7 linked regions of the Homo sapiens genome follow. The protein of the gene in region 6 interacts with the protein of the main gene of each other region in a biochemical or structural test. Each region holds a gene or a part of one and is shown on either strand. Other genes may lie near its edges.

Evidence for each region.
Region 1: the proteins of ERBB4 (region 6) and YAP1 form a complex in vitro, tested with the Homo sapiens proteins (2 studies listed by BioGRID and IntAct, with this or other methods).
Region 2: the proteins of ERBB4 (region 6) and PLCG2 form a complex in vitro, tested with the Homo sapiens proteins (one large-scale study listed by BioGRID).
Region 3: the proteins of ERBB4 (region 6) and PTPN11 form a complex in vitro, tested with the Homo sapiens proteins (2 studies listed by BioGRID, with this or other methods).
Region 4: the proteins of ERBB4 (region 6) and SHC4 form a complex in vitro, tested with the Homo sapiens proteins (one large-scale study listed by BioGRID).
Region 5: the proteins of ERBB4 (region 6) and PTPN6 form a complex in vitro, tested with the Homo sapiens proteins (2 studies listed by BioGRID, with this or other methods).
Region 7: the proteins of ERBB4 (region 6) and SYNJ2BP interact in a test that uses a peptide from one of them, tested with the Homo sapiens proteins (one large-scale study listed by IntAct).

Annotation. Positions count from the first base shown.
Region 1 is NC_000011.10:102,112,870-102,117,175, forward strand, and holds part of YAP1 (transcriptional coactivator YAP1), read left to right. Parts: intron 1-1,274; coding exon 1,275-1,525; intron 1,526-4,306. UniProt on the Homo sapiens protein: Transcriptional regulator with dual roles as a coactivator and corepressor. Critical downstream regulatory target in the Hippo signaling pathway, crucial for organ size control and tumor suppression by restricting proliferation and promoting apoptosis.
Region 2 is NC_000016.10:81,908,041-81,912,346, forward strand, and holds part of PLCG2 (1-phosphatidylinositol 4,5-bisphosphate phosphodiesterase gamma-2), read left to right. Parts: intron 1-375; coding exon 376-551; intron 552-2,479; coding exon 2,480-2,680; intron 2,681-4,306. UniProt on the Homo sapiens protein: The production of the second messenger molecules diacylglycerol (DAG) and inositol 1,4,5-trisphosphate (IP3) is mediated by activated phosphatidylinositol-specific phospholipase C enzymes. It is a crucial enzyme in transmembrane signaling.
Region 3 is NC_000012.12:112,421,343-112,425,648, forward strand, and holds part of PTPN11 (tyrosine-protein phosphatase non-receptor type 11), read left to right. Parts: intron 1-4,306. UniProt on the Homo sapiens protein: Acts downstream of various receptor and cytoplasmic protein tyrosine kinases to participate in the signal transduction from the cell surface to the nucleus. Positively regulates MAPK signal transduction pathway. Dephosphorylates GAB1, ARHGAP35 and EGFR.
Region 4 is NC_000015.10:48,956,877-48,961,182, reverse strand, and holds part of SHC4 (SHC-transforming protein 4), read left to right. Parts: intron 1-4,306. UniProt on the Homo sapiens protein: Activates both Ras-dependent and Ras-independent migratory pathways in melanomas. Contributes to the early phases of agrin-induced tyrosine phosphorylation of CHRNB1.
Region 5 is NC_000012.12:6,957,633-6,961,938, forward strand, and holds the end of PTPN6 (tyrosine-protein phosphatase non-receptor type 6), read left to right. Parts: intron 1-21; coding exon 22-153; intron 154-286; coding exon 287-441; intron 442-2,294; coding exon 2,295-2,362; intron 2,363-2,455; coding exon 2,456-2,607; intron 2,608-2,711; coding exon 2,712-2,803; intron 2,804-3,030; coding exon of another isoform or gene 3,031-3,173; coding exon 3,174-3,288; 3' UTR 3,289-3,313; intron 3,314-3,493; 3' UTR 3,494-3,684; downstream 3,685-4,306. UniProt on the Homo sapiens protein: Tyrosine phosphatase enzyme that plays important roles in controlling immune signaling pathways and fundamental physiological processes such as hematopoiesis.
Region 6 is NC_000002.12:211,377,606-211,381,204, forward strand, and holds part of ERBB4 (receptor tyrosine-protein kinase erbB-4 isoform JM-a/CYT-1 precursor), read right to left. Parts: 3' UTR 1-3,599. UniProt on the Homo sapiens protein: Tyrosine-protein kinase that plays an essential role as cell surface receptor for neuregulins and EGF family members and regulates development of the heart, the central nervous system and the mammary gland, gene transcription, cell proliferation, differentiation, migration and apoptosis.
Region 7 is NC_000014.9:70,371,600-70,375,905, reverse strand, and holds part of SYNJ2BP (synaptojanin-2-binding protein), read left to right. Parts: intron 1-134; coding exon 135-230; intron 231-2,774; coding exon 2,775-2,915; 3' UTR 2,916-4,306. Other genes in the region: SYNJ2BP-COX16 protein, read left to right, coding at 135-230, 2,775-2,873. UniProt on the Homo sapiens protein: Regulates endocytosis of activin type 2 receptor kinases through the Ral/RALBP1-dependent pathway and may be involved in suppression of activin-induced signal transduction.

The sequences.
Region 1 (4,306 bases), on a different chromosome or scaffold from region 6:
CCCATTTTGTGGCATCAGCCACAAAGAATTACAACTGGGAAGTGTACTTTTTCTTCTAGTAAATAATTTTTACAAGAATTTATATCCAGCAGTTCTAAAATTCATAAACTATTATAGTTTTGTTTGTTTTAAATAAGTTTTTAACTAAGTGTTTTGCATCTGTAAATTCGACTTTTATTTCTCCTAATGATTTCCTAAATCATACTTATTCTGATGGGAAACTCAAAAAGGTGTATCACTTTAAGGCATTAATGACTCTACTGAGTCCTTCCAGTTTCCTTACCTTTGTGAATCTAGGAAATTCTAACTTTTTGATAATCAAACTCTAATGCTAATTAAAAATATTTTAAAAACTATGCAAGATTATGAATAGTACAAATCTAGGTTGTAAATACTATTGTTCACAACACAAACTGGTGACTGTAAGTTCTTTCATATACATCCATTTTTCTATCATGAAAACTATTTTATAAAGGAGAAAACAGGCATATGGAAGTTAAGATACTTGTTCAGTGTCACACTAGCCAACTTAGACTGGAACTCAGATCTTTGGGGTCTGAATGCAGAATTTTTTCTGCTTGTATAGAGTTGTGGATGTGTGTGAGTTCTTAAGTTAAAATTGGACTGATAACATCTTTATCTTCTACATACAAAGATATAGTTGGGTTTTTTTCATCCTGTTCATTGTAGATGGCTTTTAAGAACATTTGGGCAGTTCAAATTTGTTGCTCTCATTAAAATTTGTGTAATTTGTTATGATTTCTTTATTGATGGCATTTTATCATGGTTGGAATAAATGACGAGGGCTTGATTTTTCTTGAGTTTGACCTAGAAAAAAAATTAATTACTTAAAACCTAGTAAAAAATACATATTCTTTGTGTTGTGTTTATACTTAGAACATTTTAGAACTTGGAAAAGCACCCATAACTGCACTGACCTCTTAAAAATTAGGTTTTAAAATTCACTATTATTTTTGGAATGTTTTATTCATTCAGTACTAGTTGCCCTTACATGTCTAGTGTGGACCAGGGGAAATTCATTAGATGGACTGCTCATCAATACAATTACAAACATTTATAAAATTTATATTAAAATTATATAATATTAAAAGTATCCATTTGAAAACCTGTGTTCTCCAGTGTCGAATATTAAATGTTGAAATTTTCCTTTGGTACTTAGATATTCGGCTGCAATTAAGCGCTGACTGGGAAATTTAAAGGGACTCAGTTGTGTTTTTTCTTTTTTAATTTTTCATCTTAATATTCCCTAATAGGCCAGTACTGATGCAGGCACTGCAGGAGCCCTGACTCCACAGCATGTTCGAGCTCATTCCTCTCCAGCTTCTCTGCAGTTGGGAGCTGTTTCTCCTGGGACACTGACCCCCACTGGAGTAGTCTCTGGCCCAGCAGCTACACCCACAGCTCAGCATCTTCGACAGTCTTCTTTTGAGATACCTGATGATGTACCTCTGCCAGCAGGTTGGGAGATGGCAAAGACATCTTCTGGTCAGAGATACTTCTTAAAGTAAGTGAAAATAATGGTGGGAGACAGTTATCTAAGACAAATATGTATTGGAAAACACAGTAAAGTGGTGTCAAGATACAGAATATCATTTATTTTTATGTTTTATTTAATATTTATGTTAAGCTCTGTAGCTCTATCTTCCATATATATGTTTCAGTTTGGTATGACCTAAATACCTTTGTTAGTATGGGTAATATTTTGAAAGCTTTACTGAGTCTTGGTTCTGAGCCTCTTTATAATCTTTTCTTTTGTGGAAGTTTGGTTATTCTCATTTTGAGCTTGTGCCAAACCTTTTAATTAGCCTAGCACAAAACAGAAAGAATACCATGAAAATTTTCAAATTCTGGGAATTACAGGGCTAGCAGCGTCTTACAAAATACGTATGGTGCTACTTGTATCTTTTTAAATAAATATTTTATTGGTAGAGAACTACAAAATAAGTAGGGCTTTTGGGGGAGTCTAATTTTACAGTATTTTAAATTGTGAAATGACAAGCACTACAACTGAAGCTTGATGTGACTTACCAATATTTCCCCCCAAAAATGTAAAGGGAAATAAAAATTTTTAGGTTTCATATGCAGTCGCTCAGTGGCAAACTTCTTTCAAGCTAGTAGGTCTTCACAACAGAAACCCTCCTCTCTGGGAAAACAAAAACATGACCGTTGGGTTGTTTATTTATTTTTATTTTTTCAGTCCTTTTGTGTTTAATAAAATGGCAGAATTACACTAGGCTGAAAAGACATAAATAGAATTTTCTCTCCTCTGATTTTGAAATTACAGATAAGACCTCAATTTTTTTCTGGCTTGTTTGGATCAAGTATATATTGAAATGTTGACTAAAACTAATTATGATAGACTGAAATTGATGTCTTTAAAAAAGCTCACTTAATAGTGTTTAATCAGGTTGAGATAATAAAGTGAAAAACAGTGTAAGTTTTGATTCGGATAGGTCTTGACAGTCTACTCCTAAGGCAAATGTAACATTTATTTATCATACCAGATAACACCATTAAGGATGTTTTGTTGTGTGAATCCTAGTATGTGTTTTATATTGATTGTCTTCCAGGGTGGGTTGCTACTTTGTAATGTAAGATAGAAAGTTTTGTGACAGACTTACAGAAGAGCAAAGGAAAAGGTTTGATCATGAAAAGTTCGTACAGTTTTTTTTTGCCCCCTTTCCTGCAACTTTTTCTTTTCTTTTCTTCTTTTTTTTTAAAAAAATTCATTTTCTGGTGTCCTGGTATCCATTTCAAAGGATCAGGTTTCAACCAGAACAGTAAAGGGCCTGAGACTGGAAAGTACACACAAGTCTGGCAAACTCATCTGCATGAGCAAGATCATTTGTTCTCAAGCAGACATCCAAAGTAAATGATTGAAAGAGCTGCTAGCTGTGAAGGATGTGTCTTGAAGGGGAAGGGAGTGGAAACAAACCAGGTTGTTAGGAAGAAAAAGAAAGGCTGCACTTTTTTGAACCTCTCCCTGCTGGGTCACATGCTGACCTGGGGAGATTGTTAAACAGCTTAATAGCCTGCTTTCCTTCTTTCTTTGGTTGATGCTGTGGCTAAAAGTATAAGGTTAAAGAGCAACATTTATGCTCTTCTTCTTAGTTCTTTGTATCTTGTAATAATTGCTTGTAGGTGATACCTGCCTACGATTTCATTATTTTGAATGAATGATCTTTTTTTGAGCTGAAATCAGTATTCTAGATACAGTTGGCCTTCCGTATCTGTGGGTTCAGCATTCATGGATTCAACCAACCTCTGATTGAAAATATTTGGAAACAAATTACATCTGTATTGACTAATGTACAAACTTTTTTCCTTGTCATTATTTCCTAAATAATGTAACAACTATTTAGCCTTTACGTTGTATTAAGTATTATAAGTAATCTAGAGGTGATATAAAGTATATGGGAGAATATGTATAGGTTATATGCAAATATTATGCCACCTTATATGAAAGACCAGAGCCTCTGTGGATTTTAGTACATGTAGGAGGTCCTGGAACCAATCCTTGACCACAGATGCTAAGGAATGACTATTCATTTTTCAAAGTTTCCAGTGATTCTTCCTTTGTGAAGAAATGTTTCTCTTAAAGGTATTGATATATGTAGATGGATTAATGAAGGGTATATACCTTCCAACCCCAGTCACCTCAATTCACCCCTGTCAACTATGGGCCTGTAAGGAAGATAAACCAGGCTAAAATAAATAAATCTCAAATTATGTCATAGGAGAAAAGGTTGCAAGGGTAGAGAGATATTTACCCGGAAAAGAAAAAACTGGGAGGAGGAGAGATAAGACATGATTGTTGTTTCAGTGTTTCTGGGGAACTTTTATGTGGGAGTAGGATTAGTCTTACTATATAAGAAATGTGAGGAATTTTGATTCCATGGAAGAATTTTCTTATATAAAACTTTTAAGAACTAGAAGAGTTTTCCTGGACAGGTAAATCTTGCTCAATAAATGTAGGTAAAATCATGGTTACTTGGTATCTGTCAGGGATTCTATGGAGGCCCCTAAACATTGGATGTGGGAGAAGAATGCTGTGGGCTTATAAAATTTTGTATTTTAAAGAGTATCTGCTTTATGAACATTATGCAATTTGGAGAAAAGTTATGAAATAAGATTATTTCACCTTCTCCAGTTAGCTACTTCCATGATGTTATGGACCGTATAGTTGTTACAACTTCTTTTTGTGTACTGAACAGACAAATGAGATTAATATCCTAACCATTAGTCAAAGATGATGATAAACTAAGCTTTTGGTGCCAAGTTTCTG
Region 2 (4,306 bases), on a different chromosome or scaffold from region 6:
GGCTTGGTCCCATGCTTTCCTGTTGCCCTCTCCTCCAGCTGTGGTCATCTTTCCCGCTGTTTATTTCTGCAGCCCCCAGGGCCTCATGGCTCTCAGACTTCCCATAGAACAGAATGGAGGGCTTTGCTGGGAACCGTTCACTGCATGTCTCAGGATGCCAGGAGGCCACCATAAATGAGGGCTCTCAGGAGTGGGAGGCAGGCAGAGGAGGGTAGCAGGTGCTGTTTTCCCATACCCCTTCGGGTGGGGACCAGCTGAGGCTGGCCTCTCTATGTTATCTGGTACCCTGGGTCAGGGTGAGACAGAAGGACCTGTCTAGTGATGCTGGGGTTTGGTCCAAGGCTTTCAGAAACCCCTCCTCTCTTTGCGGCCCAGGATATACCCCCTACAGAACTACATTTTGGGGAGAAATGGTTCCACAAGAAGGTGGAGAAGAGGACGAGTGCCGAGAAGTTGCTGCAGGAATACTGCATGGAGACGGGGGGCAAGGATGGCACCTTCCTGGTTCGGGAGAGCGAGACCTTCCCCAATGACTACACCCTGTCCTTCTGGTAATGCCCCCGACCCAGGGAACGCCTACCTTCTTCTCCATGCCAACCGATGAGGCAGGGTGGCGAGTGGTTCTAGCTCAGGCAGGAATTGGGCAGGCTGGGACCTGAATCCCAGGCTTCATTTGTCTAGCTCTTCTAGGCCGGGACAAGGGTGAGGTGGGTATGACTCACTTCGGCACTGTAACCCAGATTAATGAGATTTCAGGGCAATCTTTTAAAAAATCAAAAGTAATGCAAAAAAGTCTGTGATGAACAAAATATGAACATTTTAAACAAAGACAAGATCTGACCCTACTCTTAGATGATGTGGTCTCACTCACTTTCCCCGATCCCAGCCCTGGAGTGGGTCATGTGGCTCTGGATGATTCAGCCAACCTTCTAGCATCTCTGTCTCCTCCATAAAACGAGGACTCTAGGGCTGTCCTTTTGAAGCCGTCATAGGCTGTGATGAGCTTGTGCATTCATTCATCCACCCACTTATCCATGTCTCAGTGCATTAAAAGATACTTCTTGAGGGCGTGCCCTGTGCTAGACACAGTACTTATGCCAGACAGACAATGTCTTTGTCCTCCTGGACACTAGCGTCTTTTGAAGGAGATGGGCAATGAAAAAGCAGTCACTCAAATGATTTGCAAGTATAGTTGTGATGAGTGCAATGAAACAAGGCAACATAAAGGGACATCCCTCCCTTTATTGGGGGGGTTTAATGTGAGTTGGGGGGATTTGTGAAAGTCTGTGAGGAAGGCTCTGATGCCCTGACGTGGGGAATGGTTAGGAAAACCTTCCTGAAAGAAGATGAGACCTGAAAGAGGGAAATTATAATTCTGTCACTTAAAAAAAAATTGTGATAGGGTCTTGCTCTGTTGCCTAGGCTGTAGTACAATGGAGCAGTCTCAGTCACTGCAGCCTCAAACTCCTGGGCTCAAGCAACCCTCCTATCTCAGCCATTTAAGTAGCTGGGACTACAGGCACATGCCACGACACCTGAATAACTTTTAAATTTTTTGTAGAGCTGGAGTCTCACTACGTTGCCCAGGCTGGTTTTGAACTCAGCTCAAGCAATCCTCTGGCTTCGGCCTCCTGAAGTGCTAGGATTACAGCTGTAAGCCATTGCACCTGGCTGAAAATTAGAATACTAATAACACGCAAATAATCCTGGACACCTAAATGATGCTTACCATGTGCTGGGCAGTATTCGAGACACCTTGTGTGTGTGGTCTCGTTTACTCTTCAGGATGCCTCTTTGAGGTGGATACTGTTATCATTCCTGTCAGACCGCTGGGGTAGTAATACAGTGTGGCTCAGACAGCACGGGTGACCTGCTCCAGGACACTTGGTTCATATGTGGCAGAGCTGGGATTTGAATCCAGGCATCCTGGCTCTAGAGAAGCAGTTATATATATAAAAGGGGGATGGGGTGGGGTGGGGTGGGGGAAGTAGGTAGAATGTTCTGGAATCCAGGCTGAGGGTCTAGCCTATACTAAGGCCCTGCATCTGGTTTTGTTGTTGTTGTTGTTGAGATGGAGTCTCGCTCTGTCGCCCAGGCTGGAGTGCAGTGGCGTGATCTCGGCTCACTGCAACCTTCGTCTCCCAGGTACAAGTGATTCTCTTGCCTCAGCCTCCCAAGTAGCTGGGATTACAGGCATGCACCACCATGCCCAGCTAATTTTTGTATTTTTAGTAGAGACGAGATTTCACTGTATTGGCCAGGCTGGTCTGGAACTCCTAATCTCAGGTGATCCACCCGTCTCGGCCTCCCAAAGTGCTGGGATTACAGGCATGAGCCACTGCGCCCAGCCTCCTGTGTCTGTTCTAGGAGCAGAGGGAAGGTTGTGTGGCCACATGTAATGTCCCCGCCTCTGAGGCCCTGGCTGCCGCAATGGCCTGGCCTGCGTTCTCCCAGCACTGATGGCGTCCTCTCCCCGCAGGCGGTCAGGCCGGGTCCAGCACTGCCGGATCCGCTCCACCATGGAGGGCGGGACCCTGAAATACTACTTGACTGACAACCTCACCTTCAGCAGCATCTATGCCCTCATCCAGCACTACCGCGAGACGCACCTGCGCTGCGCCGAGTTCGAGCTGCGGCTCACGGACCCTGTGCCCAACCCCAACCCCCACGAGTCCAAGCCGTACGTGTCTGAGGGTGGAGCAGGAGGCAGGCGGTGGTCGGGTTAGCTCCACCAGGCAGAGAAGCTGGCCTGGTGGTTCAGCCGGGCCAGTCCCCCAGGACACCCTCTCCCCAGCCCACCGGCATCTCAAAATTGCCGAGGTGGCCAGTTTCCAAATTCCTGGCACCATGACCTGTGTCCTTTTCTCTTTTCTTTCTTTCCTCCCCTTTTCTCTTTTCCCTTTCTTCTACTTTGTCTTCATAGCCCCGAGACTTTGGGCTTTGATTTTCAGAGGGTCATTTTGGCCTGGGGATATTCTCTTACCTTTCAGAGCTCCTTCCTGTTTGTTCTGAAAATGAACAAGGAAACAATGATTATAAGAGTCTCCCGCTGATTTTTTTTATCTAGTGAAATGAGTATCAAGGTAGGTCTTGCGAAGGGTCAACAAATTCTGGGAATAAAGAAAAAACAATTTTTAGGCAGAAAGCTGCAAAAATGTCCATTTCCGAGGAGGCCGTATTACTTATAGCAACTTTTTTTTTCACTTTTTCTGTCACATTTTCCTATGGATTGCCTCTTAAAACTTGCTATTTCTTATCTTAAGAAATAACCCGAAAACAACCCAAAACCTTGTGAAACTCCTGCTGTGATCTCCGTCTTCGATTTTCTGAGACACGTGGCAATAACTGTGCCTCCCTGGGAGCCTGGCTTTTCAGGTTTGGGCTGCTTGGGTGGATGAAGATGAATCAATTTTTTGAGACAAGGTGTTGCTCTGTTGCCCAGGCTGGAGTGCAGTGGAACAATCACGTCTCGCAGCAGCCTCGAGCTCCTGGGCTCAAGTGATCCTCCCACCTCAGCCTCCTATCTGGGACTGCAGGTGTGTGCCACTGTGCCCAGCTAATTAATTAATTAATTAATTAATTAATTTTGAGACCGGGTCTCGCTCTGTCTCCCAGGCTGGAGTGCAATGGCACGATCTCAGCTCACTGCAACCTCTGCCTCCCAGGTTCAAGAGATTCTTGTGCCTCAGCCTCCTGAGTAGCTGGTATTATAGGCGCACGCCACTGGGCCTGGCTAATTTTTGTATTTCCTTTTTTTTTTTTTTTTTTTTTTTTTGGGACAGAGTCACATTCTGTTGCCTAGGCTAGAGTGCAGTGGCATGATCTCGGCTCACTGCAACCTTTGCCTCCTGGGTTCAAGTGATTCTCCTGCCTCAGCCTCCTGAGTAGCTGGGACTACAGGCGCCTGCCACCATGCCTGGCTAATTTTTTGTATTTTTAGTAGAGACAGGGTTTCACCGTGTTAGCCAGGATGATCTCGATCTCCTGACCTCATGATCCACCCGCCTCAACCTCCCAAAGTGCTGGGATTACAGGCGTGAGCCACCACGCCTGGCCCAATTTTTGTATTTTTAGTAGAGACAGAGTTTCGCCATGTTGGTCAGGCTGGTCTTGAACTCCTGGCTTCTCGCGATCCACCTGCCTTGGCCTCCCAAAGTGCTGGGATTACAGGCGTGAGCCACTGTGCCCAGGCTATTTTATTTTTTATAGAGATGGGGGTCTCATTGTGTTGGCCAGGCTGGTCTCAAACTCCTGACCCCAAGTGATCCTCCTGCCTCAGCCTCCCAAAGTGCTGGGATTTCAGGTG
Region 3 (4,306 bases), on a different chromosome or scaffold from region 6:
GATAATGAACACATCTATCACCCCTGGTAATTTTGCCTTATGTTCTTTATAATCCTTCCTTTGTTCTTAGGCAGCCACTATTCTGCTTTCTGTCACTATGTATTAGTTTGCATTTCCTAGAATTTTATTTTTAAAAATTTTAAAATTGTTTGAATAGAGATGGGGTCTCACTGTGTTGCCCAGGGCAGTCTCAAACTCCTGGGTTCAAGTGATCCTCTCACCTTGGCCTCCTGAAGTGTTGGGATTATAGGCATGAGACACCCTGCCCAGCCCTAGAATTTTATTATTATTGTTATTATTGTGTTTTTTTGAGATAGGGTCTCACTTTGTTGCCCAGGCTGGAGTGCAGTGGTGCAATCACTGCAGCCTTGTTTTCCTAGGCTCAATCCATCCCCCCTCCTCAGCTTTCCGGTTACTGGGGCTACAGGTGTGCACCACCACACCCGGCTAATTTTTGTATTTTTTTATAGAGACAGGGTTTTGCCATGTTGGCCAGGCTGGTCTCAAACTCCCGGGCTCAAGCGATCTTCCTGCCTCGGCCTCCCAAAGTGCTGGGATTACAGGCATGAGCTATTGCGTCCCGCCTTCAAATTACTTTAACCTAGTATTAATTCATTCAACAGGAAGTTAATGAGCCAGGCAGGATAAAGCAGTAAGATAGGAAAATATTGCTATTTTCATGGCTGAGAGAGAGCAGACAAACACATGACTAAATAGGGCAATTTCAGGTAGTAATAAATTCTAGGAGGGAAAAAATCCCACAGAAATGTGAGGATGGGAGAATGCAGTTAGTTTTGATAGGTGGTTTAGAGAAGGTGATCGTGTGAGCTGACACCTGAATGACAATTAGTAGTCTGAATTTTGTTTTGCTTAATTATCAAAATAACTCCTCTTGGGTTCGGCTTTTATATGCATCCAGTAATTAAAATGTAAGTATATTCAATGTACTGATATCTCTCAGCATCATAGGTAGGAAAACTAAGGCATTCAGCAATTAAGTGACTCCTCCCTTGATCATGTAGCAGTGATAGTACTGGATTTAGATTTTGAGGTTGCTTCTCTGCCCTTTTCTGCCTTTGTGAAACCAACAAAGCTGCCTGTATTTTCCAACTCTTCCTTCAGCATGTGGTACCTCCTTTACATCTGTTTTTGTTGCTCTGAAATCCATACGCGACGATGAGCTGAGAGGGGCAGAAAATTGAGCTTGTTCTGAGACTGGAGGCTTTTGGTTTATCTCTTGCAGGTCAAGTACATTTTGTCCTGGGCTCTCCCTGGTGGCCACGTTTGTTTATCTCCTGCGGGAGTAAATAAACTTGCCTTGCTGAAAAATAACAGTTCTGTGTCTTTGCAGTGGAAACTGGGATGTCTTTATTAACGTTAGGTCCTGATGTAAGGCCAAGTTTTTGGTTAGAGTTGCTCAAGTGCAGAGGCCACTGCTAAGATGACTTACCCCTCGTGTCCATGGTCAATGTGGAGACTGTTATGAGTGGCACATGATGCTGGAAAAGCAGAGCCAACTCATGTTTGTAATTGTCCTAGCAGGCCGTGGTGTACTTTGTTAGGCAGCCACAGAACAATAGAGAAACTCAGCTTATTCCCCTTCCCTCTGGGAAACACAGACAGTACTTGCCATCCAACGCCAATGTTTTTAAGGAAGAAAGAGGCAAAAAGTGATGTTGGCAAGGTCTCTGGGAGTTGTGGACCCCAACCAAGGATTGGAGACCCTGAAATGGATTCAGATGCCCTAAAATGCAGCCCAGTTCATTACTATGAATTTTGGAGGACTTTGTGCCTTGAGCAAATGTGTATATGTGACGCTCTTTGACAACACTGAAATAGGAAAAATACTATCCATGTTCGCGAGGAGCACTGAATTTAGAGAGGGAGACAGACTTTTATGCCAGCATCAAATGAATTTGATAAAGCTAGTACCAAAATGAAATTTGAAATTTTTTTTTTTTGAAATAGAGTCTTACTCAGTCACCCAGGCTGGAGTGCAGTGATACAATATTGGCTCACTGCAACCTCCACCTCTTGGGTTCAAACAATTCTTGTGCCTCAGTCTCCTGAGTAGCTGGGATTACAGGTGCGTGCCACCATGTCTGGCTAATTTTTATATTTTTAGTAGGGATGGGGTTTCACCATGTTGGCCAGGCCGGTCTTGAACTCCTGGCCTCAAGTGATCTGCCCACCTTGGCCTTCCAAAGTGCTGGGATTATAGGCATGAGCTACCACACAAGCCTGAAATTTGAAATGTATTGGTATAGAATATACTGTTTAGAATGTATGTGTATATATGTATATTTGTATACTCATATAAACACAAATACACATTGTATGTGTTTCTGTAATATGTATATCTGTCTACACATACATGTATATACACACATACAATGTCTTTTTTTTTTTTTTTTTTTTTTGAGACAGGGTCTTACCCTGTTGCCCAGGCTGGAGACTGCAGTGGCATAATCTTGGCTCACTGCAGCCTCGACCTCCTGGGCTCAAGTGATCCTCCCATCTCAGCCTCCTGAGTAGCTGGGACTGACTACAGGCACGTGGCATCAAACTTGTCCAATTTTTCTATTTTTTTGTAGAGTTAGGGTCTTGCTCTGTTGCCCAGGCTGGTCTCAAATTCCTGGGCTCAAGCTGTCTGCCTGCCTCGGCCTTCCAAAGTACTAGGATTACAGATGTGAACCACTGTACCTGGCCTTTACAATGTCTATTTTAAAGATAATGGTTCAAGTTTTTATCATCCCACTGGCCTACTCTAATGAAACATCTATCCATTCATTGAAGAATTATTTATGGTGGGATAACTCTGTGCCAGGTACCGTGCTAGGCATTGAGTATTCCAGGTTTTAGGAAACAGCACATGCAAAAGTGCTGAAGTGGGAGAAGATCTCGGAGTGATTGAAGGCTAGGAGAGAGCAAGTGTGGGAGCTGTGAGGCTGGGAAGGTGGGAGGTAGGTGGGAGCAGACCACATAGGGATTCTTAATGTCTTTAGTGTCATGTGGACCATGGAGAGGAGTGTAGATTGTATTTTTAGAGCAATGCAAAATCATAGAAGGATGTGATCGGGGGAGTGGCATGAGCTGATCTATTTAAAAATATTTCTCTGGCTGCTGTGAAGGAAGGATTGTAGGAGGCAGGAGTAGATTCAGGGAGATGAGACAAGTGATGAGAGAGGCTTTGAACTTGGGTAAAAGTAGTTTGTGGAAAGTCTTTTTTGGAGGTAGTTTTTGTTTATTGCCTTGTCATCAAAGCAGAGATGCTGACCAATGAAACTCCATGAGAAAATAGTGATTTATAAAGACATATCTATGCACTGCCATTAAAAAGCTGCTTGGAAAAAAAGGATAAAAAGCTGCTTTAACAACTTTTTTTTTTGAGATGGGGTCTTACTCTGTCACCCAGGCTCACGACCTCAGCTCACTGCAACCTCTGCCTCCCAGGCTCAAGCATTCTCCCACCTCAGCCTCCCGAGTGGCTGGGACTGCAGGCACACGCCACCATGTCAGGCTAATTGTGTGTGTGTGTGTGTGTGTGTATGTGTGTGTGTGTGTGTGTGTGTGTGTGCTGGGACTGCAGGCACACACCACCATGTCAGGCTAATTGTGTGTGTGTGTGTGTGTGTGTGTGTGTGTGTGTGTGTGTGTGTGTGTGTGTATGTAGAGATGGGGTTTTGCCATGTTGCCCAGGCTGGTCTCAAAATGTTGCCCAGGCTGGTCTCAAACTCCTGAGCTCAGGTGATCCACCCGCCTCGGCCTCCAAAGTGCTGGAGATTACAGACGTGAGCCACTGTGCCCACCTAACAACTTTAAAAAAATTTTGACATTTAGTAGGATATTTATTGCATTATTGTTGAGATGGCAAAATATTGGAGACAACTGAAATGTTCATCAGTGGGGGGGGCTAGTTAAATGAAATACAGTGTAGCATGCATTAGAACACTTTTCAAGAATTTAACTTTTTTTGTAGCCTTTTACTTATAATGCTTGTCCCTATTGATGCCTTTTTTTTCAGCATGACTTACTCTTTTACTATAGGATATTAAAATTTAATTAGATTAGAAATGAGGAATATTCTTGTAATCTGTAGAAAGTAACAAACTATAAACTTATTCCCCAAGAACAAATATAATAATTTTTCTGGAGTAGCAGGTAAGAAAGATATAAATTTATATGTATACAAGAAACTGAAATTAGACTTTATACATTTAAAGGTTACAAGTGCAGTTTTATTACATGAATGTATTATCCAGCATTGAAGTCTGGGCTTTTAGTGTAACCAGCACCTGAATAACAT
Region 4 (4,306 bases), on a different chromosome or scaffold from region 6:
GGAAAAATTAGAGACTTGGAGGACAGTAAGAAAGATACTCTGAGAGTTTAGGTATGAGGCAATGAGAACACTGATTAAGGTGGAGAGGAGAGAAAGGAGGTGAATGGTAAGGCATTCTGTGACAGAAGAATGAGAGAAGCCTCAACAACCCTGGGAGATTAAGCAGATCATTTCAAATCATAATATAACTAATAGAGTAGTGAACATTTATGGAGCAGTGGGTAGATTGATTATTTTGTTACCATTGTTGTTTATTGGGGTTGTGATTGATTATTGATGGAGGGTTGTAAAGGGTGAAAAAAAAACTTTCAAATTGAAGTCTCAGAATGACATCAGTGATGCCAATGACTGAAGCAGAGTAAATTAGGAAATGGACTCATTTTAAGTTTGTTTTTGACATATTAAATTTAATGTAATTATTTGTAAATAATGCTAATATGTAGGTAGACAGTCATATAAAACTAGCACTCAGGCGAGATGTCTGATCTGAAGGTATAGAGAGCTAGCCCAAGAACTGTATTACAGACAATTAGGATCTCAGTATTACAAACAGACAATTAGGATCTCAGGGAAGTTCAAATAATAAACACTGGAAGGGTTACAGAGAGAGCAGGCTTGGGCAGTCCTGGCAAATGGGTAACTAAAACCTCTAAAGCAGATAAATGTATGGGACATGCAGCTCTCGCCCTCACCCACAGTGACATGGCACATAATGGAAATATTTTCATGTTTCTACTCAAAGTTCATGGGCATATTCTCATTTATCAAGATTAGGTGTGTGCCAGGCCCTCATGGGAAAACGAGTGAGTCTCCAAACCTGGGCTCTCTGCACTTGCCTTACCATCACCTACACATCCTCTAGCCTCTGCCTCAGCTTTCCTTTCCTCTTGTACCTCCTGCAACCTCCCCATACCCACACACCTGTACAATTTTAAATGTGAAAAGAGTTGCTGTGTGATCTCCAGTTTCCCTAGGGAGTGCCTCCTCTGGCGTTTTAGATTTTTAATGGGGGCACCATCTGTCTTTTCATGGCAATAATCACTGACTCCAGAAAAAGTGCTGACCCCACGACCCAAATGAACCTCACAAGATTGCCGATATCCGTGATGTCCGATACAAGCTAATGACATCTCTTATGAAGTCAAAATACGTGAAAGAACTTACTTATTAAGTTTTATAGAATCCTAACTTTGAAAGACGGAAGACTCAGAAGTTATCAAGGTCAATTCCTTAATGGTGAAACCAAACCCCAGGTTTTTCAAAGGCCACACAGATGAGTTAAAGCAGAGTGAGATCTAGAGCCCAAATCTCCTGTGTGCCATTCTTATCTGTCTTCACCACAGGTTTCCATCCTGGTTGTTGTTCTGTTCCTCAGAATTCTTTTGAGATGTGAACCAATTTTGAAAAATGAAATGCTAAGCTATTAATTTACAGTAAAAATATCATACCAAATGAACCAAAGTTGTGAGCTCTGTATTCCCATCTGTAGGAAAAAGCACATAAAAAATTTTAAATCAAACCTTGCTTGGTAATAATGGATTCATAGGAGAGAACTGAGAGAAAGATGATCTTAATGGCTAGTTGACACAGGGCTGGTGGATTTAGGGGCAAAGTTTACAGGAAAAAAGCCACTTCATATTCTACCTTCTTATCCATATCATGTGACTGCTCCTCTCCCTGCCCCAACTTATTTGCTAATCCATTCATCCATTTATTTAACAAATATGTATTATGAATCAATTATGCAGCAGGAACTGTTCTAGGCACTGGGCATCCATGAACAAAATGAATCAGTTCTAAGCATCAGTAAACAAAAGAGACCAGGTCTGAATCATTGTGAAATATTTTAGTGAGCGGAGATAGGTTCAATTGAATAAATGAAAAAATATACTATTTCAGATGGCATTAAGTGCTATGGAGAGCAATAAAGTGGGGTAAGTGAAAAAGGCAGTAGCTTGGGTGGGAATGGAAGGCATATTACTCTTGGGTAAAAAGTGGGATTGTTATAGCTACTCTTTACTTTGTTTTCTTGCATATTTTCTCTTTATGATAGGGACTATATTTTTCATCTGCGCTAAGCTAGAGTTGACTTTGGGTTAAATATTCTTTTTAAAAAATGGTTCTTCATTTGGTCTTATGATGTAGAATAAATTATATAGCTGAAAACACTTTATGAATCCTGACCACCTGTTTTGAGTAACTTTAATTGAAGCTCAGACTTTGGACCACCTGAAGGTCTCTCAGGGAAGGGGGCCTAGCAAACCATTCTTTGAAAGATATTGAGCCAGAAATAGGACAGTGAGATCCCAGTCTGGGCAAAGTAGTGAGGTGGGCAAAGCCCATTAAATGGTGTCAAATGTGACTTCATTCTCCCCATAAGACTGAGTCTCCTTTCTTTAGAGGCCTTTCCAAGTCCATTCATCCATCAGCAGACATTCATTTAAAGGTCTCCCAGGTGCCCAACATAGTGGGGAATGTGGAAAATCTACAACGTGACAGTGTTCTCCTCTTTAAAATGAGAGAATTGGCTTGAAAGCCCCCTCGCAGCACCAGTATTTAATGAATGTAGGGTTCCTTTCTCACACGGGAGGTGTTGAAAATGTTAGTTTCCTTTCCAATTCTCAACTTGGCTCAAAGACTTAATAAAGCAGAGGCAAAGAAACCAACCTTGACGAGCTTTGGCAGGTAACTGCAGTGGCCCTCACCACAACCCCCTGAGGAAGGCCGTGTTCTCCAGGTGAGGACACTGAGAGCCCAGGTGTCTGTGATCCACAGGATACTTCACAACTAGTAAGTAGCAGACTGAGGATTCCTAACCAGGTGTGTCTCACTCCAATGTTCCTCCACTTCCCAACCTCTCACTTGCCTCCAAGCAAGACAGGCAGCCTCTGAAGTATGGGAATGGAGTAGCGTAGATGAGAGGCCACACTGTGCAGGATAGCCTCATCATAGGACCAGCCCATGGAACTTGCCTTGTGATATGCATTTGCATGATTTCAGTCTCTTCACTTCAGCCCAGCCCAGCCAACTGTTTCCCAGATCGCATTAGTTTCCTAGGGCTTCTGTAACAAGTCCCACAAACTGCGTGGCTTACTACTATAGAAATCGATTCTCTCACAGTTCTTGAGGCTGGACGTCTGAAATCAAGATATCAGCCAAGTCACGCTGTCTCTAAAAGCTCTAGGGGAGGAATCTTAGAGCTCTTCCTTGTCTCTTCTAGCTTTTGGCAGTTGCCTGCAATTCTTGGTGCTCCTTGGCTTGTAGATGCATCACTCCAATCTCTGCCTCTGTCTTCACATGCATTCTCTCTGTGTGTCCATGGCCAAATTTCCCTCTTTTTTATAAGAACATCAGTCATTGGATTAGGGCTCACTCTCATCTAATATAATCTCATCTTTATTTGATGACATTTGCAAAGACCCTATTTCCAAAGAAGGTCACACTCACAGGTTCTGAGGGTTAAGACTTGGGCATATCTTTTTTGGTGGACATAATTCAACCCAAAACAGTCCCCAAGAGCATTTATTGCAATGTGTTTGCTCACATGGGCCTTCTTGGGTATCAAGCTCATCAGCTTTGTGTGCAAATAGAAATTTGTGTTGAAAGATTTTCTTTACTTCCTTTATAAATCCCACAGTATACTCTTACCATCCGTCTTCTCCTGTCTAAGGTATCTTATCACTGACCCAGTAAACTAGTATTGTCAATCATCTGTTGTCTAGACTAGATGTAGTCCACAGTACCACAATGTTACATCTACCTCAAGTAGCTTTTCCATAGGAGAATACAGGTCTAGGAGTTTGGAGACGTGCATTGAAGTAACGGCTCTGACACTAAGCTGTGTGATCTTGGGTGGGTCACTTCACCTCTGTGGGCCTCATTTTCTCATATTTAAAAGAAGTTTCAGCCAGGCACAGTGGCTCATGCCTGTAACCCCAGCACTTAGGGAGGCTGAGGCACGCATATCACTTGAGGTCAGGAGTTCGAGACCAGCCAGGCCAACATGGTGAAACCTCATCTCTACTAGAAATACACAAATTAGCCGGGCATGTTTGCATGCACCTGTACTCCCAGCTACTTGGGAGGCTGAGGTGGGAGGATTGCTTGAACCTGGGAAGTGGAGATTGTAGTGAGCTGAGATCATGCCACTACACTGCAGCCTGGGCGACAGAGCAAGACTCTGTCTCAAAAAAAAAAAAAAAAAAAAAGAAAGAAAGAAAGAAAGAAAGAAAAAGAAAAAAAGAAGAAGAAGTTTGAACAAAATGCTGCTTAAAATCCTGAGACTCCAGGTCTTCTTTCCTACCTG
Region 5 (4,306 bases), on a different chromosome or scaffold from region 6:
CACCCGACCCTCCCTTTCCAGAACAAATGCGTCCCATACTGGCCCGAGGTGGGCATGCAGCGTGCTTATGGGCCCTACTCTGTGACCAACTGCGGGGAGCATGACACAACCGAATACAAACTCCGTACCTTACAGGTCTCCCCGCTGGACAATGTGAGTGGCCCCCACGCCCTGCCCCATTCCGGGAGTCCCTCCCTGGACTTGTTCTCCTCTCTGGTCGGGTAGGGTGAGATGGATGAGGTGTTCCGAGAGAGGAGGGGGCACTGACCCTATGTCCTCGGCTTAGGGAGACCTGATTCGGGAGATCTGGCATTACCAGTACCTGAGCTGGCCCGACCATGGGGTCCCCAGTGAGCCTGGGGGTGTCCTCAGCTTCCTGGACCAGATCAACCAGCGGCAGGAAAGTCTGCCTCACGCAGGGCCCATCATCGTGCACTGCAGGTGAGGATGATAATCCTGATGGTAGTAGTGACAGCTGAGAAGTAAATACTGCTAAGTGCCATGAGCTGTTATAAGCAATATAAACGTTAGCTCGCACATTGAGTGCCCTCCGCTCACCCCCGGCTTCTCCTGGGTCCCCTCATGGCTCCAGAACCCTGGGTGGATCGTGGCTGGAACCAGCCCCACTTTGGCCCTCTGCCTGTGGGTATCTTCCTCAGAGCCCTCTCCGGATGTACCATCTCGCCCAACCCTGCCAAATACAGAGGAGGAGCCCGGGACCCAGTTGCTGGCCAGGCCCAAGCTAGTCAGGGCAAGGCCGGGCAGGCACCCACAGTAGGCCTGTGTCCCGGCTGCTCCGCTTTCTCTCGAGGTCCCATTCTGTTGGTTTCTTCTCCCAGGAACATCTATGAGGCATGTGCTCCCCATTCCTCCTCTTTTTCCATCGGTAGCCGCAGGGCTTCGGCTTCTTCCTGACTCTGCCCTCTCTCCCAGCTTCCCCAGGCAGTGCCCCATCCTGGCCCCCAGGGCTGTGTGGGGATGGGTGATGCTTCTTTGGGGCTGCACATAACTCCTCTGTCTATCTACCCGCATGTTTGTGATCAGGAGACCTCTGGTAAGGTGCAGAGGTGGGGGCTGCAAGGAGGAGCAGGGGTTCCACAGGTGAGCCCACTGAGCTGGCCTGGCCTGGGTGGATGAGAGGCAGTGGGTGCAGGGCCCCTCCGCTTACCAGCTGTGTGGTCTTGGACAAATTACTTAACTTTTCTAACCCTCAGCTTCCTCATCTGTAAAATCAGGATCTCAGGGTTGTCGTGAGAACTCAATGAGACCCTATCGTTGTGGCTGGAATTCCGTCAGCCCTCAAAAACTGGGCGCTGTTACTAGTTTAGTAACTCACATCAGGCAGAGAATAGGGGAATGGGAACCTGCCTTGCCCCGGTCCCTTCCCACTCCCTCCGTGGACCCCAGGCCTGCGACGGCCTCTGGCTTCCTCCTCTTCCCCCAGCAGCTGTTTGTCCTGGGACAGGGCAAGTCGGCTGAATCTAGAGGTGCCCCCGATGGGCTGTCCGGGGACGCGGCTCTGTCCTGTGCTCTCTCAGGGACAGGCCCATCCCCGAGAGCTACCCTCCTGCTCACCCGCCACACACACATTCACACACTTCTTGAAAGCCCCATGGCCTTTATTTAGACGTTACAGGAAGGAAGTGGGTGTGGGGGGTTATTTTTGACAATCTGGGTTTGAAATTAGACAGCGCGACTCAGGGCATCAGCTTGCTGGGCTCAGCTGAGGGTGGGCCTGGGGTCTCCCTGAGGTCTGTTTGCCCAGGGCTGGGAAAGGAGAGAAACTTCCTACTGCACTGCTCCCCTGAGTCCCCTGACCCTGTGCCCCCGCACCCTGCTGTCTCAGGGCTATCCTTTCCCTGACGTCAGGGTTTGAAGGAAAAGGGAAGTGAAGCCATGCTGAGAGACGCTCCATAACTCCTTCAGGGAGAGGCGGGGAGGGCTCAGGGTACCTGGGAGCCGGCAGGACAGTGGTGGGATTTGGGGGTCCCAGGTCTTCCGGGGTGGGGGCAGCCACTCACTAGGAGTGAGGAGTCGGCGCGAGGAGTGGAGGAGGGAAGGATGGTGGCAGCTGGGGAGCCAGCGTCAGCACCGCAGAGCCCGAGGTGGAGCGTGTCCATGCAGAGCTGGGCAAACCTCCATCATCACTTGCCCGGTGACCCTGGGCACATTCCCTCCCATCACTGGAGGCTCAGGCTGCTCCTGTGGTGCCTGGGGCTGGAGCTGAGCGCTGGGTACCCCCCTTCCCGGGGAGGGCTTGACTGGCCTCTGATGGCACCCCCGTCTTTCCCCAGCGCCGGCATCGGCCGCACAGGCACCATCATTGTCATCGACATGCTCATGGAGAACATCTCCACCAAGGGTGAGGGGCACCTGGGGGTTTGGGGGTGGGGGGTGAGCAGCCCCTCGGTGTCCGCCTATGCCTGGACCTGAGGTTTGACTGCCCCCCACCCAGGCCTGGACTGTGACATTGACATCCAGAAGACCATCCAGATGGTGCGGGCGCAGCGCTCGGGCATGGTGCAGACGGAGGCGCAGTACAAGTTCATCTACGTGGCCATCGCCCAGTTCATTGAAACCACTAAGAAGAAGCTGGAGGTCCTGCAGGTGCGTGCAGAGCAGGGCCTGGGGGGGGGGGGGGCTGCAGTGCAGGATGGGTGCCACCTGGCCCTGCTGGGACCACCACCTTCCCACTGTCCCTCTGCCCACAGTCGCAGAAGGGCCAGGAGTCGGAGTACGGGAACATCACCTATCCCCCAGCCATGAAGAATGCCCATGCCAAGGCCTCCCGCACCTCGTCCAAGTGAGTGGCCCTGACTGCCACTGCCCGGCATCCACCCCTTTGTCCTGCCCAGCCCGATCCTCACTTTCTGGAGAGGACAAGTGTTGCAGCTGGGGGGACCTGGCTTCAAGTTCAGGCTTGGTTCTCACCCCTTCTGTTCATAAGCATTTCCTGAGTGCCCACACGTGTGGGCCTCTGCTAGGTACCAGCAGCGCACTCGTGTATGAGATGTAGCCTCTGTCCTCTAGGAGCTTGGAGTCTAGTGCAGGGACCGTGGCTGCGTCACCTGTGAGACGGGGTGGCCAGAGGGGACTGCCAGTGCCGGGTCCCCCTGTGCTGTCTCCTGACCTGCACCAACTGCCTGTACTTGCCCCCCTGCACCCGGCTGCAGACACAAGGAGGATGTGTATGAGAACCTGCACACTAAGAACAAGAGGGAGGAGAAAGTGAAGAAGCAGCGGTCAGCAGACAAGGAGAAGAGCAAGGGTTCCCTCAAGAGGAAGTGAGCGGTGCTGTCCTCAGGTGGCCATGGTACAGCTCTTCTGCCTGGGTGTCCTCCCTGCCCTGCCCTGTGTCCTTGGCTCCACTGCCTTCCCTGGGTGGATGGGGTGGCCGCAGCCTCATTCTGTGCTTCCCAGCTGCCCCAGACCCTCTTGTTCCACCTCCAGGTTCCAGCTACCCTCTCACTCCCTCACTCCCTTCTCTTGGCAGCCTCAGCCCTGACCCTGTGGAAGCATTTCGCGATGGACAGACTCACAACCTGAACCTAGGAGTGCCCCATTCTTTTGTAATTTAAATGGCTGCATCCCCCCCACCTCTCCCTGACCCTGTATATAGCCCAGCCAGGCCCCAGGCAGGGCCAACCCTTCTCCTCTTGTAAATAAAGCCCTGGGATCACTGTGTGTCGCCTCTGAGCCCTTTGCTTGCCCAGTGAGTGGGCGGCCAGAGGGCAGGGCAGGATGGGTAACTGTGTGTGCCTCCGTGCGTGCCTCGCGTGAAAGCTCCGCCTTCCGTCAGACGGACGTGGGTCGGGACTCCGCCTCGCACGTGGGAGGGTGACCGTGGGTGAAGCTCCCCAGTCTCCTTCTTTAAAATGGAGGGCGATCATAACAGGGTGGTTGTGAAAAGCACCGAGATGACGGCTGACGATAAGACGGGCACAGTGACTCATCACACGCTTGCCATGTGCCCAGGCACTAAAAGACTACACACGTTAGTTCAGTCTAGGCACTTCTGTCATTCTCATTTTACCGTGGCGGAAACTGAGGGACAGAAAAACTAAGTAACTTGGTCACTTGCCCAAGGTCACAGGGCTATGGAACAGTGAGGCTGGGATTCGAACCCAGGCTGTCTGACCCCAGAGCCCACACTCCTTACCCTGGAGTTGCAGCTGGGGCCACCCTCAGGGGGGCCCTGATCACACTCCCCTGATGCTGAGTTCCAGATCTGAACTAAGAAGAGTAGTTAACAGCCGGAAGCGCAGACCTGAGGCCAGCCCGGCTGCGTCCCCTCTGGCGGGAACAG
Region 6 (3,599 bases):
TTTACCTTTATGATAATAAGACTCCTCATTTGGGAGAAAAAAATTTACAGCAGCTACAAAATATTTACGATTAGGAACCAAATAAGATGAATAAAGCAAATAAGTTAATTTACTGGCAAAAATAACTTCTTGGTTATATGTACAGCTTTTATGTAAAGATTAAATCGAAGTTCTACCAAGTGTATGTGGACATATGTGAGTTTCAAGATTCATCACAGGGCTAACTCGTCTCAAATTCCTATAGGGAAGGACACAGAGAATTGATCTTCATGGGAAACCATAATTTTAATAGCTTAAATATTCTCTATGCGGTAGTTTGATAGTTCACTTAAACAGTGTCCAAATTGCTAGAATCTCTTATGAAAAAATCAGGCATTCGAGGGCAAAGATGAAGTCAGTGTTTCACAAAGTGGGGTGTAGGATCTCAGAGATCCACTATGGCTTAAGAAAGGAACAGGACAGCATCGGGGGACTACTTTGAACCAGGGTGGTAGAAAGGGAAGAGAGCAGTGCCAGTTGTGTCAATGGGCAAAAAAGGGAAGGATTCTATTTTCCTCTAAAGGTCAGAGAGAAATACATTTTTCTTTGATTCCTAACAAGGTAATCACTTACTTGCAAAGCTGACTGTCAAAGAGTATTTTCCAGAGGAAGCATGTGAATACCCCCCGTGAAATTGGGGCTTAGAGTCATTTTAGCTTGTGACTATAGAAGCATTTACTTCTGCCCAAAATGTCACCTGGCCAGGAATTAGGTGAGGCAGGGGCCTGCAAAAGTGACAGATCCTACATTTTTGGACCTCTACAAAATCAGTGAGACTTGAACCGAGTATCTGAAATTTCTATTATTTTAGAGAGACTTTTAATGAAAAGAAAAAAGCAGCTCACACTGCTAAAAGATATTTGCCCACACAAACACAAGGGCCCCTGGCCCGACACAATGCCCACAACAGCTTCTTGTTTCCAACTGCAGAGAGAACTCAGATCTCTGGGATCAGAAAAATTTTATTAATTCTACCCAGAAGTATAAAAACTGGCCCCATTGTAATATCAGTAATAATGAGGTCTCCACTGATAATGATCTTTTAAAATTATGCCTGATCTCATCTGTATAATATTTGTTCTTAAGCAAATAGCAACCAGGCGATACCAATCTGCATTTATATGTTTACATGGGGCAAGGCTGTCCTTCAAACTGATACACACCGAAGTCCATGTACACAAACAGAGGCACAGTAAGATCCTCTGCCCACAGTATATACAGTAGAAGTTAATTTATCTGTTTCTTTTTTTTTTTTTAACAACTAGAAGCTGATGTTGTAGGATCAGCTCTAGGATCCTCTGCCCACAGTATACAGTAGAAGTTAATTTATCTGGTTTTTTTAACAACTAGAAGCTGATGCACATGGATTTCTCATTTGCCCTATAACAATCATCATTCTAATAACTAAAGTCCAAAAGAATGGCAATGCAATAGTTTGAAACGCTTGGTTTAGCATTTATTTATCAGAAAAATTGTGATTCTTTGTTGTCATTTTTGGAGGCAAGAGGGCATAGTGAGAAAAGAAAGGACATATCACCAATTAACTGTATTTTGTTTGTTTGCTAGCTAAATGACACCACTCCTTTTTTTTTTTGTCTCTGCATAAGGTAATAGAACATTTACATTTTCTTTACTTCATCTTGAAGACCCTTACTTAGTCATATGTAACATGTTTGCCTATTAAATTCTGCAAGGTGGTGTTTATTTAAAAAAATAAATAAATACAATTTTCTTTACATTTAAAAAGTGATAAAGGAATAAGAGAATGAGAAAAAATTGTTCATTGTAATGCTTTAAAGCAAGTTTTCCCAAGTGGAACCATATATGCCTACTTTCAGCTAAACCCAACAAACAACAATTTTAAATGGCAAACTTATCTTTTTACTATGCAAAATCCATCCTACATTTTTATATCCTGCATTTAACTTTGTTACATTATACTTGTGGTTAGTTTTCTAGTTTGATTTATTTAATAATATTAAAATCATTTAACATCTGATAACCTAACTAAATCTACATCTTATAGCATTATCGTGGTTCTGTCCAGTTATATACATGCTTTCATGATCACCTTTTCTATTACCTTATGAACTACATATACTAGTTAAATTATCAACAATTACAGATGGATGAATAATTCCAGTTTTGAAATAAAGGTTAGAGAGCTCTAGAAAAACTTGTATTTACATCCTTCCCTGTCAGGCTTAAACAATTTTAATTTTCTTTTCATTTTTGATACTTCAAGAAGCACATTAATAGTCCTTCCAACTTCATCTAGTAGCAGAGCCTCACACAGTCCTTTTCTTGATTTTTCCTTAGCATTGTAAGTATGCACAATCTTCATGCCATGTCTTTCCTTTAGAAGGTATTAGCTCACACACTATAACACTTAAACACTATTCCTTCTCTTAAATTAGATATTCAGTCCTTCTCCCTAATCTACAAAAAAGAATCACTTGATTTTAGTTTGTGTGTTTTAATAGAAATTTGAGTTTTGCGTTGTTTTTCATGCTATTTTAAGAATGTTACTGGAGAAAGGATTCTCATCCTAAGCTGTGCTACTAATACTATGCAGAAAACCAGGAGCTGCTTGGTAGTCTAACACCTTTTGTGGTGCAGATGCTTTGTGGTTCTGGATCTATCCTAGATCAGAGGCCATCTTTCCTCACCTGTTTACCACTTTCTTTAGGCAATCATTTAACTGCAAAATTTTTCCATACCTGCCCAAAATAGGTATAATCTACAAAGTTGGGTGATTTAAAAAATATACTCCGTGTAATTTTAATACTAATTTGTCTCAGATTTACATAATTGATTCTGCAAATTTCAATTGCTACAATTGGCCTCTGGAATCTGATATCCCCCCAAGCACTTTGAAGACTTTAACTGACATTTTAAAATTCTACCCTACTGGACTAAATAAGTTATTCTCTGGAAGGAATGAAACTTTTTTTCTCCCTCTTATACATGCTGAAATATGTTTTCCCAGGGGGGACAAAAATAAAACAAAAAACACTCAAACAACTGAAGTCAATTATATACTACAGAAATCATTCAAAAGAATTATAAAGTGGTGCTATTATAAAGCATTTGGGTCATTTTGGATTATTCCTACATGCATCTCTAGGTATTACCCAACATGTAGAAGTCTTGTGTTCTTAGGAGGAAAGAGACATTCACTAAATACATTTCTGTTACCTTAACAGTTAAAAGTTTGTTTTAACTATTCATTTTTTCCTTCTCCAAAATGAGTGATTCTGCTTTCTATAGCCCAGTAGAAACCATATGCATATTGTAAATCAGAAAAAAAAAATCAAGGTATAGTATCCAAAAAGAGGGCTGTGATGACTCGATGCAGATTTATTTAGAAAGGGAGGCTTATATTCAATTTTTCATAAGTACTGATATGAGATCCCTTTTCCTAGAGACTTCTCTGAATGGATAGGAGAGCCCTGAGCTATTAGATTGTGGCCCCTGAATCACTCTGTGTCTTTACCCCTGAAAAGTTTGAGGGTGAACTTCACTAGAAGGAATCTCACAAACCCTTCTCCTGCTCTACC
Region 7 (4,306 bases), on a different chromosome or scaffold from region 6:
TAACTTTGCCCATACTCCTAGTCCTTGCAATTTGCTCTGAAGGAGTTTGTTATTTAAAGTTTGGCCATTTGAAAATAAATTGTTGACTTCTAATAGCCTTCTTCCTTTCTTACTACTCTTTGGTGTTTTGACAGGTAAATGGCCAAGACCTAAAGAACCTGCTGCACCAGGATGCTGTAGACCTCTTTCGTAATGCAGGCTATGCTGTGTCTCTGAGAGTGCAGCACAGGGTAGGTATCACTTTGAGCCAGAAACCTGGCACCAGGCTTTTGCACTGTACTTCTGAATAAGCCCAATGTGTGTAATCTTCAGTGTTGCTTTTTGTTTTACCCTCACTCCCCTGAAGAGTTTCTCAGGCAAAGGGAGGGGTCCATTGGTACTTCTGCTTATCATTGAAGGACATTCAGGCCAGGCACGGTGGCTCACACCTGTAATCCCAACACTTTGGGAGGCCAAGGTGGGCGGATCACTTCAGGCCAGGAGTTCGAGACCAGCCTGGCCAACATAGCAAAACCTCATCTCTACTAAAAATACAAAAAATTCAGGCACGGTGGTGCACACCTGTAGTCTCAGCTACTTGGGATGCTAAGGTGGGAGGATTGCTTGAGCCCAGGAGGTAGAGGTTGCAGTGAGCCAAGATCATACCACTATACTCCAGCCTGGGCAAGAGAGTGAGACCCTGTCTCAAAAAAAAAAAAAAGAAAAAAAGAGAAAAAAAAGAGAAATTCACAACAGTATGGCTTATAACCAAGGTCCTTGCTTCAAGATAATATGCCTTAAAGATAAAGCTTGACAACCAAATTAAAACAGATGATTAAAGAAAAGCCAGGTGTGGTGACTCACATCTGTACTCTTAGCACTTTGGGAGGCCAAGGTGGTATGATTGCTTGAGCCCGGGAGTTCAAGACCAGCCTGGGCAACATAGAGAGACCTCATCTCTTAAAAAAATAATAATAAAAATAAATAAAAAATTTTAAGAGTGACATGGACCAATGGAAAATAAATAAATTAATTAATTAAAAAGATGGTAAAAAAACGTAGCCAATTTTACTTTTTGGTAGGGAAGGAACCATATGTCTACCGCTGAAAACTTATTTATAAAACCATTGGATAAAACACTACAAAGATGGTGGGTTTTCTGGTACCCACTATATGCTTTTCCCTGTCACTGCCATGAACCCTTCATTTATCAACTTGGTGACCCTCTTAACCAAATCTTTAGTGTTCATAGGAGAACTCCAGGAAAAAGGAAATGGAATTCAGAATTCAGTCAAGGCAGCACCTATCCCTGCATCTGTTTCTTATTTCCAAGTGTTTTATAATTTGGATGATGATGTAAAGGGAAGCCTGGGTAGATATAATTCCTCCTATAGCATTGAGAATTTCTGAGCATATTCACAAAACAGGTTCCATGTGCCTTTAAATTAAATCAATTTGCTACTTCTTAAATAGGTGCACTCTTCCTCACTCAGTGGCTAAGGATTTAGAAGCTTAAGAACATTTAGAGGAGTTCCTAAAAAAGTAGAGAAGGCAGAACGTGAAAGATACCTGAGAAAACAACCAGTTGCAAGCAGAATCTGGGTGTAATGGATTAGAAAACAGGTTAATAAGAGATAATATTGGTCATCAGTTGCTTCTGCCTTGGCTCTTCTCTTTCTAAAGCATGGGAGCATTTGTGCAGTAGATAAAAACAAGTAAATATAGGGACACACTTCAATATGATTACAATTCTTTTGGAAGGTATGTGAGAAGTTATTTCCAGTGTTCACTTTTAAGGAAACATCCATAAATAATTCCTAATAAAAAAGACCCTTATGTTCAGGCAATTGGCCTAGCCCTAAAAACCATGCCTTCTTATTGAGCATGTCCTTTCAGGACAGCTCATCAGCAAATGAATGAAAAACATAGAGGTGGAATAGAGGGTATAATGGTATTTCATGCAGTCTTGCCTTTCAGATTGAAGTGTCAGTTTTATGAGTTGTAATGAGGCAGTTTAACTGAAATACGATGATGCCATAATTATTGCAAGTTAGCCACTAAAAGTTGATATTAAGAAGAGCTACCCTGAAAACCATCACTAAAATGAAGACCATCCAGCCTCAAAAGGAAACACTTAGCCAATAGAAAATTATAAGCACTAGGATATAATTTCTTTTTGCTTTTTTACATCTGTTCCATATAGATTCACCTTCATCTCTCTCTAGTATTAGAAATGAGCAGATGAAGGGCAAAACCCCATCTTTGGAGGGAGTTGGGTGCCTTCTGGGATCTGGAAAGCATTTTTCAAGTAATGGCATTGGACGTATGTTGGTATTGCACCTATGTTGACATTGCCCACATCTGCTCTTACTACATTTTGATGACTGATTATCTAAGTAAACATTTCCAGAAAGATCCCCCTTCTTCCTCACCAAGTAATATCCAAGTTCCCTATAAGATCATAGGTTTTATCTCATGTCTTCATTTTCCTGATACGATACACAAATAGCAAGGTAGAGGCAGTACAGAAACAGAAATTACCTGACTTGCCCTCACGGGTCCCTTTAGGTCAGCAAGGTTAAATGCCTCCCCATTAGACCTATTTTCTTTCCAAAGATCCTGTGACACTGATGCATCAGCTCAGGACAAAGAGAGGACTCCTTCTGCTAGGTATTGCTGGGGGTTACAGTTTTGGGTGGTCTAGAGTCTACAAACCCAGGTGATGTATCAACCTGGGCGTTTCAGTTGCAAACACACATTAGTCACTAGAGTTAACATTTTTCTTTCCCTTCCAGTTACAGGTGCAGAATGGACCTATAGGACATCGAGGTGAAGGGGACCCAAGTGGTATTCCCATATTTATGGTGCTGGTGCCAGTGTTTGCCCTCACCATGGTAGCAGCCTGGGCTTTCATGAGATACCGGCAACAACTTTGAAAAACTTGCTCTCTTTCAATACTCCCAATGAAGATACATTTCACTCACCCTCCACCCCTGCTATTCTGCCATGTCTTTCCCTCTCTCTGCATAGCCAGATTTGAAGTGACTGATACCCACCCCAAACCTTGCTGTTCACAGTCTCCAATTCTTCATATTCTAATGGGAAAGTAAAGGTATTGTTTGAAGGAAAACTGAAGAAAAGACTTGGCTTAGAACAAATGAGGAGTTATATATTTTACTAGGACTTTTGATAGAAATTCAGCTACAACCCAAAGAGAGAAAGATTGAGTCTTCCTGTCACCATAGGCAATACCTTTTTTCTTAGCTGGCATGCCATAAAGGCCAGCTATGTGATATTAGAGGAAGAAAGGATTTTTCTTTTTAATGATCTTCCTTGGGAAATTATTGTGGCCTTTATTTAATTTCTAACTACGTACCTGGGTGCCTATATCGACAAAGAGTGAGAAGAGCATTTTTACTTTTTTAAAAAAGCAAATACATATATACACATACGTATGCAAATATTATAGTATAATAGTGATCCCTATGGAGAATTAAAGGTGAGAAAGCTACTTTGTGGTGTCTAGGTTTCTGATAAAAGGGATGATCTTAACTGAAGAATTTAAAGAGATACTTAAACAGAGCAAATGTAGTAGGAACAAGGGAGTGAGCCTTATAAGAGGACGTTCAGTCTCATTTATTAAAATAATAACTGAGACTGGGAGAGGTGGCTCATGCCTGTAAATCCCAGCACTTTGGTAGCCTGAAGTGGGAGATTGCTTGAGTCCAGGAGACCAGCCTGGGCAACATAGCAAAACCTCATCTCTATTTAAAAAAAAAATAGAAAAAAATGTAATAACTGAAGCAACTAATTAAAAATCTTAGAAGAACAATATTTATTCTTATAACAGCCAACTATGGTGAGTTATTATAAGGTAAATTGCCATAATCCAGCGCTGCTCACATCTAAAAAACTTTGAGGTGTAAAGGTAAATCGTACCAATCTCTGGGCTGCCCTAGTGACTTTTTTGATACCTCAGAGTCCTATTGAAGAACCAGGTGGAATGATTGTGGTAAGGGCTATAGTGCTGGAGCCAAACACCCCAGCAAGAAAACTCTAAAAGGACAAAAGATAAGGTAGTGCCTCCAAGGTGGCACCTGAACCCTCTCAGGCTACTTTTTGGTTTCTACTAACAAACCTGAGGGAAGGAACTGCCTCCCTGGCAGGATGGGCATCAAATCAACTCTGGCTTCAGATTTAGTTAAAATGAGGCCGGGTGCAGCGGCTCACACCTGTCATCTCAGCACTTTGGGAGGCCGAGGCAGGCAGATCACAAGGTCAGGAGTTCAAGACCAGCCTGGCCAACATGGTGAAACCCCATGTCTAC